Regions from separate parts of the Homo sapiens genome. Here region 1 is linked to region 2. Evidence: fine-mapped QTL for protein levels in blood plasma. A gene starts in region 2. The other region holds a variant in brackets. All regions are shown on one strand. Distances are between the middles of the regions.

Region 1 (2,829 bases), 22 kb before region 2:
TGTGAAACTGGCCAGGAATGGGGCAAGGAGAGGCAAATTCCCTGAGCACTTTGAATCCATGGTGTTAGGAGGTGGGGCTCTGGACCTCGGGAGTTTCCCTGCATTTCCTCCTTGCACTGTCATTTCTGCCTTGCAGGGCTCAGCGAGCACGCGCTTGTCTACACAAGCTGCTCCCCAGAGCTCCCCCGCTGCAGTCCTTATCATGCTGCTTTGCTCCGGTGAGGAGCGCACCCATGGCAGGGGCCCTGCATGCCACTCCCTCTGCTTCTCTCAAGGGCACCCGTCTGAGGCCAGATCGCAGAGTGTGTGGCGTGGGCAGGCATGGGATTGACAGCCAAGGATGTGACACTGGGTAGGGACAGGGAGGAAGCACCAAGCCTTTCCCATTCCCCTCAGGACTCCCACTGCACAGTCAGGGCCAGGCCTCTGAAAAGAGAATCCAGTTCTGTGGGCTGCTCCAGGTCTGAGGTCTCAGGGGCTGGGCTCTTGGCTTCATCCTTGGGACACACAAGGGACTCCAGCAGGCCCCAGGGACTTGGACCTTGGTCCGAGGGGGAACATGGACGGGAAGGAGGTTGCAAAGGGAGGGACATGGGGTGGCCCTCGATCTGGACTGAGGAGAGGAGGGGGAGCTGGCCCTTTAGGTACTGTGGTGTCCCTTCCTCCCCACTGTGTAGCACATTTGGGTCAGATGTTCTGTCTGTGCAAATCCCCAGGGGCTGGTGCAATGATTTTGCTTCTTGGGATTCCTCCATAGCCAAGGAGGTCACCTCCTGCAGAGAAAGGCCACCTAACATGCAGCTTCCAGCTGGTGGCTCTTTCTGAAGCTGACCTTTAGGCCTAAGGTGTTTAGGACTAGAAAGTGTCCCAGTGGGGGAGTCTTTGCCAGAACCTTCCATGCATACCCCATAGGAGGGAGGCCAGCTGTCCGGAGTGGCTTGAGGGGCATAGGAGGAAGGCTGGACCTTAGAGATGGCCTGTGGGGCGTAGAATGGGAATTGAGCTTCGGGGGTCACCTGAGGTGCATAGGATGGGGGCCCGACCTCAGGGGCAGCGTTTGGGGCATAGGACAGTGGGGAGAGGATCTGGGGAGGTGGCACGTTGGAGGGCTGGAGGATGGAGATGTCTGGCTGCCCTAAGTAGGTGATCTCGGACAGGCTATGCCGCTGTGGAGCTCCTGCGGGCTCCCTGGGTCCAGACACCCTGATCTGGGAGTACTGGACAGGCTGGGCCAGACTGCTGGGGCCGCTGAGGTCAAAGACAGGGATCAGGACGTGCTCCTGGATGAAGCGCAGCGGCTGGAAAGTCAGGACTCGCTGGACGTTCTGTGCAGGGACGACAACAGTCACCCCCCTGTGGTTAGGGTAAGTCCCAAGCTCCCTACTGGTGATGTGGGTGGGTGAGGTCCTCCATAGGGAGGCATCTGGGGGCTTTTTCAAGATGCGTCTGTCCCATATCCCCATCTGCTTCCCAGAGACTCCTCTAGGTGCAAGTGCCTCTCTGAAGGGACAGGGTCTCTCAGCTCTTTGGTTCTAAAGCCTGGGTTATCTCAGGGAGAGAGATCTGGGCTCTGGTTTCTCCAGGAGGCGGATAATCCAGGGAGTAGATGACCAGGATTTGGGGTTGCCTTGGGGCATGATCTCGAGGTGGTGGCCCGCATTGTTGCTTGGCCCACGGGTCCCTGAGGGCCTAATACAGGGTCAGGGTGGGAAAAGAAGGAGCCAGGAGAGACCGGGAGAGCTTTACAGAAAATGCTTCATCTGGACTTGCACATTGAGCAAAACTCCCTCAGAGCTCCTCTGTCCCTCCGATGGGCAAGAGCAGGCTCCGGGTGCCTCAGGTGGCTCAGCTCATGGCTTCTGCAGTGGCCTTGCTGCTCTAGCAGAGG[C/T]GGCACTGGCGTCAGGTGGGGGCTGCTGATGTGATTTGTGTGGCTGATGTAGGGCTTTCCATTTTATTTTTATTTTTTGGGTGGGGGGTGGTTTTATTTTTTGGGTGGGGGGTGGTTCTGGTCTTCACTTGCTACAGCAATTCTAAAAGAACTGTAACAAAGGGCTTTCCACTTAACAATTAGTTTTGCCATTTAAAAATTTCTGTTTAAAATGGCCAGGTGCAGTGGCTCACGCTTGTAATCCCAGCACTTTGGGAGGCCGAGGTGGGTAGATCACCTGAAGTCAGGAGTTTGAGACCAGCCTGGCCAACATGGTAAAACCCGTCTCTACTAAAAATACAAAAATTAGCCAGGTGTGGTGGTGGTGCATGCCTGTAATCCCAGCTACTTGGGAGGATGAGGCAGGAGAATCGCTTGAACTCGGGAGGTGGAGGTTGTGCTGAGACGAGATCATGCCACTGCACTCCAGCCTGGGTGACAGAGGGAGACTCCATCTCAAAAAAAAAAAAATCTGTTTAAAAAATTAGTTCTGAATATTTGAAAATTGGGAGATTCCACAATATAATCTGAAACTCTGGCTTCTCTTGAAAAACATGAAGATCAGGCAGTGCTGGGCCTGCATTCCCACATGGTGGTGCCCGGCTGCCCATTTAGACAGGGCATGAGTGCCACGGCTCTCCTGGCGCCCACCATTCCTCCCTCGTTGCCTTGCTGCTCACTCAAGTCCCACACTACCCTCCTGGTGCTGGACACTTCCAAGCCATGTGGGTTTTTTATTCCATGTCTACTATTCCTGATCACCCACCCCACTTCAATGTGTCCTGAGACCTGCTGGGCTACACGTCCGTTGACTTTAGCTGGGACTGTGAGCTCCGTGAATGGAGAGAGCAGGCCCATCTCCTGCTTTGTCTGTGGATCCCTGCATTTTGGGGACAACTGGG
Region 2 (2,887 bases):
GCCTAAGATTGGGGGGGTGAGGGCCCGGTGTGTGCAGCGCGAGGCAGCTGACCCTTGACAATCTCCTAAGGGCTATTTCTTGGGGTCCCCCATCTCAAAGGGCTGGGAGCCTCTAGGATTTCTAACCAGTATGGCTGAGGGTCTAAAGGGACGTGTCTTGGTGCCTCAAGGGGGTGCCTCACATCTTCCTGGAACGCCCAGCTTGATGCTGGGAAGCAGACTGGAGGGGGTCCCACAGAGCTGGAAGCCCTGGAGACGCAGGCAGCCCTGGCGGGACAGTGGCAGAGAAGGTGGGAAGCTCTGCCTTTTCGTGGGCCTCGTCCTGCACTTGAGCAAGGAGGGCCTGGCCGAGGCCATACCTGCTCGCCATCCTCAATCAGGACTATGCTTTGACTTCCTAAGGAAGTTCCCTGAATTTCATGCAATGCACCAGGAGAGCAGAGAGAGAGTCTAGGGTCTCATGTAACGTTCTCCATAATGATGAGCCCCCCACTCCGCTCACTTTATTGGCTTTGAACACTATGCCCTTAAGACCTGTTTCCAAATGAGTCCTGTGTCTTAAGACCTATTAATGTAGCAGACCTGGCCACTCTAGGAGAAAATGCTCTTTCAGATCTATGATAACAAAAGGGGCCAAAGAGGCCCTGCAGGGGCATGGAGGGAGGCAATAGTGAACTCAAGCTTCGTTTCCCCCGGTCCTTCCTCCTCCTCCCCTGTCAGGCCAGTGCCAAGTGAGAGGCAGAGGAAGGATGGTACAAACTGTGCCGACACCGTTTGAGGGACCGAAGGATGTCTGCCTCCTCCAGGCCAATTCTCCATTCACTGAGGTGCAGCGATCCAGCACCCCCAGTTCAGACAGCTGGCTATATCCCTCAAGACCCGAGGGTCCTTTGGGTCCCTGGAAGAACCCAGGGTCTGAGGCACCCTCTCATGCCCCCAGCAAACTAAGCTGGGCATTTGCTTCTCCGTGAACACCCGGCACCCTGCTCAGCCCTAGCAGGGGAGAAACTGAAACTGGCTATGCTCGGGCTGGGGAGGGTGCTGGGGAGATGACCCTGATCGTTGGCCCCTGGGATAAGGGAGGTCTGACCACAGGGTAGATGGGCACTCACCAGCCAGGGATCCCACAGTCAAGATGGTCAGCAGCGTCCTCATCGGGGCTGGCACAGAGCCCTCCCTTGGCCTCTACTCTGCCGTGCACAGAGAGAGGGCTGGGAGTCTTGGCGCCCTGGCAGCTGGCTCCACCCGGGCATGGGGCGGGGAGAAGGGGGTGGGTGGGACCTGTGCCGGTGGGGAGCAGGGGTACAAAGGTGTCCTGGCCCTGTGTGCTCTGGAATTCCAGGTTCTGGGCGGGATCTAAGGGAGTTCCCTTCCGACTTGCAGAAAACAGCAATAGTAACAGGCTGGCTTGTTTATCTGGTCCGGTGGCTGATTCATCCCAAGTGGTTTATCAAGGAGCTGAGGGGCAGAAAAGGCAAGAATAATCCACGATATGCAGCCTTATCAAAAAGCAATTTGGCACTGTGGATCAAAAGCCTACACCACATACATATCTTTTGCTTTAATAATTCTATTCCTAGGGGATTTACCCTGATGAAAATAACTGGACAACAGAGGGGGAAAAAAAAGGTCCCAGAATGTTTCTTGCAGCAAAGGAAAAGCTGTGACTCCTTTGCTTTTCTGGCAGGAGGAGATTGAGGGCACCCGATGCTCCTCCTTGATCCTCCATATCAAGGCAGGTCCCCACGCTTGGGGTGGGCTTGGGAACAGCTCTCCCCTAGAGAGGCCGTTGGGGGTGAGGAAGCCCAGCCGCTCTTACCTTGAGCCTTTGGGTCTAGGATCTGCAAAAGTTTAGAAAAAAAATGGAACTCAAACTTCAGTGATTCTTTCTGCTGTGCTAGAGATGGGGCTGAACTTCATGAATGGGGCTTTGGTTCGGGACGATGAAGATTCAGGCTGCTCTCCCATCATTTTGCCACGTAGGGCAGGATCTGCACATGAGCTTCGTGTGAATGAAGGGACAGGTGTTTAGGAAATGGTTTTCTCCTTCCTGCAGGGCCTGGAGAAGGTAGAAGGGCCCTGGGGCCTGGACTCTGGTCAGGGTGGACACGATTGGAGGGTCCTGCCCCTGGGGAGAGTTTGCCTGGCCCCAAGCACACAAAGGCAAGCGAAATTTTAGCAGGGATCCTGCCAACGGGTTGGGTGTAATGGGCTGTGATATGCTGAGATCGGTGTTTAAGTTTTTCTTTCCTGAATTGTAATTGTTATCAGCCCTGATTGCTAAAGTTTGTTTGACAAAACAGCCAAATCTAAGCTGTGCTTTGGAGGAATTAAGGTAGGGCCCATGCCAGTCATTTCCTGAAACTGCAGGAAACTACATTTTCTAGACTCCTTTATCAACTGCTTTCTGATAGGTTTAGCCCCTGGGGGAAGACTGGGGAGGCAGAGATCAGAGCATTTCTCCCCTCGTTTTCTGTTTGAGTGGCTTCCCCAGCAATGGCCATATCCCTCTGCAGTTCTGGCTCCCTCTGGACAGTCCATCAGCCAGGCAACCCCTTATGTCTTTCTTGTTCCTGTTTGGAGGCCAGCTCCTGGCTCTGGCAACACCTTCTCCCCTCATCTTTCCTTTCAGTTGGTGGGATGGCACAGCTTCCTGCTTTGGGGAAATCTCTGAACTGTCTGTCCTGATTAGTGTCCCAGCTCCTTCATCCTCTGGGTGACGAGCTCCTTTACATTAAAGTCCCTTGGTCTGAAAGACTGGAGAGGTTTCTGTGCTACTGAATGAACCATGATGGATAGAGGGTTTTTGATGACTTTGATGACAAGGCAGTGTGGGGAAGCTACAGCGAGAAAAACAGGTTACAAGGGACGCTTAGGGAGAAGAGCA

Which allele goes with the higher level. Positions count from the first base shown, and alleles are read on the strand shown. Strength reflects both the effect of a copy and how common the allele is.
For the plasma level of the protein whose gene starts at base 1,213 in region 2, allele T in region 1 goes with a higher level than allele C (moderate association).

The links. PIP is the posterior inclusion probability: the model's chance that the variant is causal. The UK Biobank Pharma Proteomics Project read protein levels with antibody pairs (Olink). The fine-mapping took linkage between variants from a reference panel, not from the people measured, so its PIPs are less certain.
Region 1: its variant is fine-mapped to the plasma level of the IL22RA1 protein (UK Biobank, PIP above 0.99).

The regions. Positions count from the first base shown.
Region 1 is chr1:24,120,413-24,123,241 of GRCh38, forward strand. IL22RA1 (interleukin 22 receptor subunit alpha 1) reads right to left here. Exons shown (of 7, transcript NM_021258.4): 7 at 1-1,325. The coding sequence ends at 393. Among named protein-coding and RNA genes, the nearest start is that of MYOM3, 9.7 kb to the left of the region's middle. RefSeq lists a silencer at 27-321. The variant C/T (reference allele first, on the strand shown) is at 1,889.
Region 2 is chr1:24,141,928-24,144,814 of GRCh38, forward strand. It overlaps IL22RA1 (interleukin 22 receptor subunit alpha 1), which reads right to left and starts at 1,213. Exons shown (of 7, transcript NM_021258.4): 1 at 1,113-1,213. The coding sequence starts at 1,155.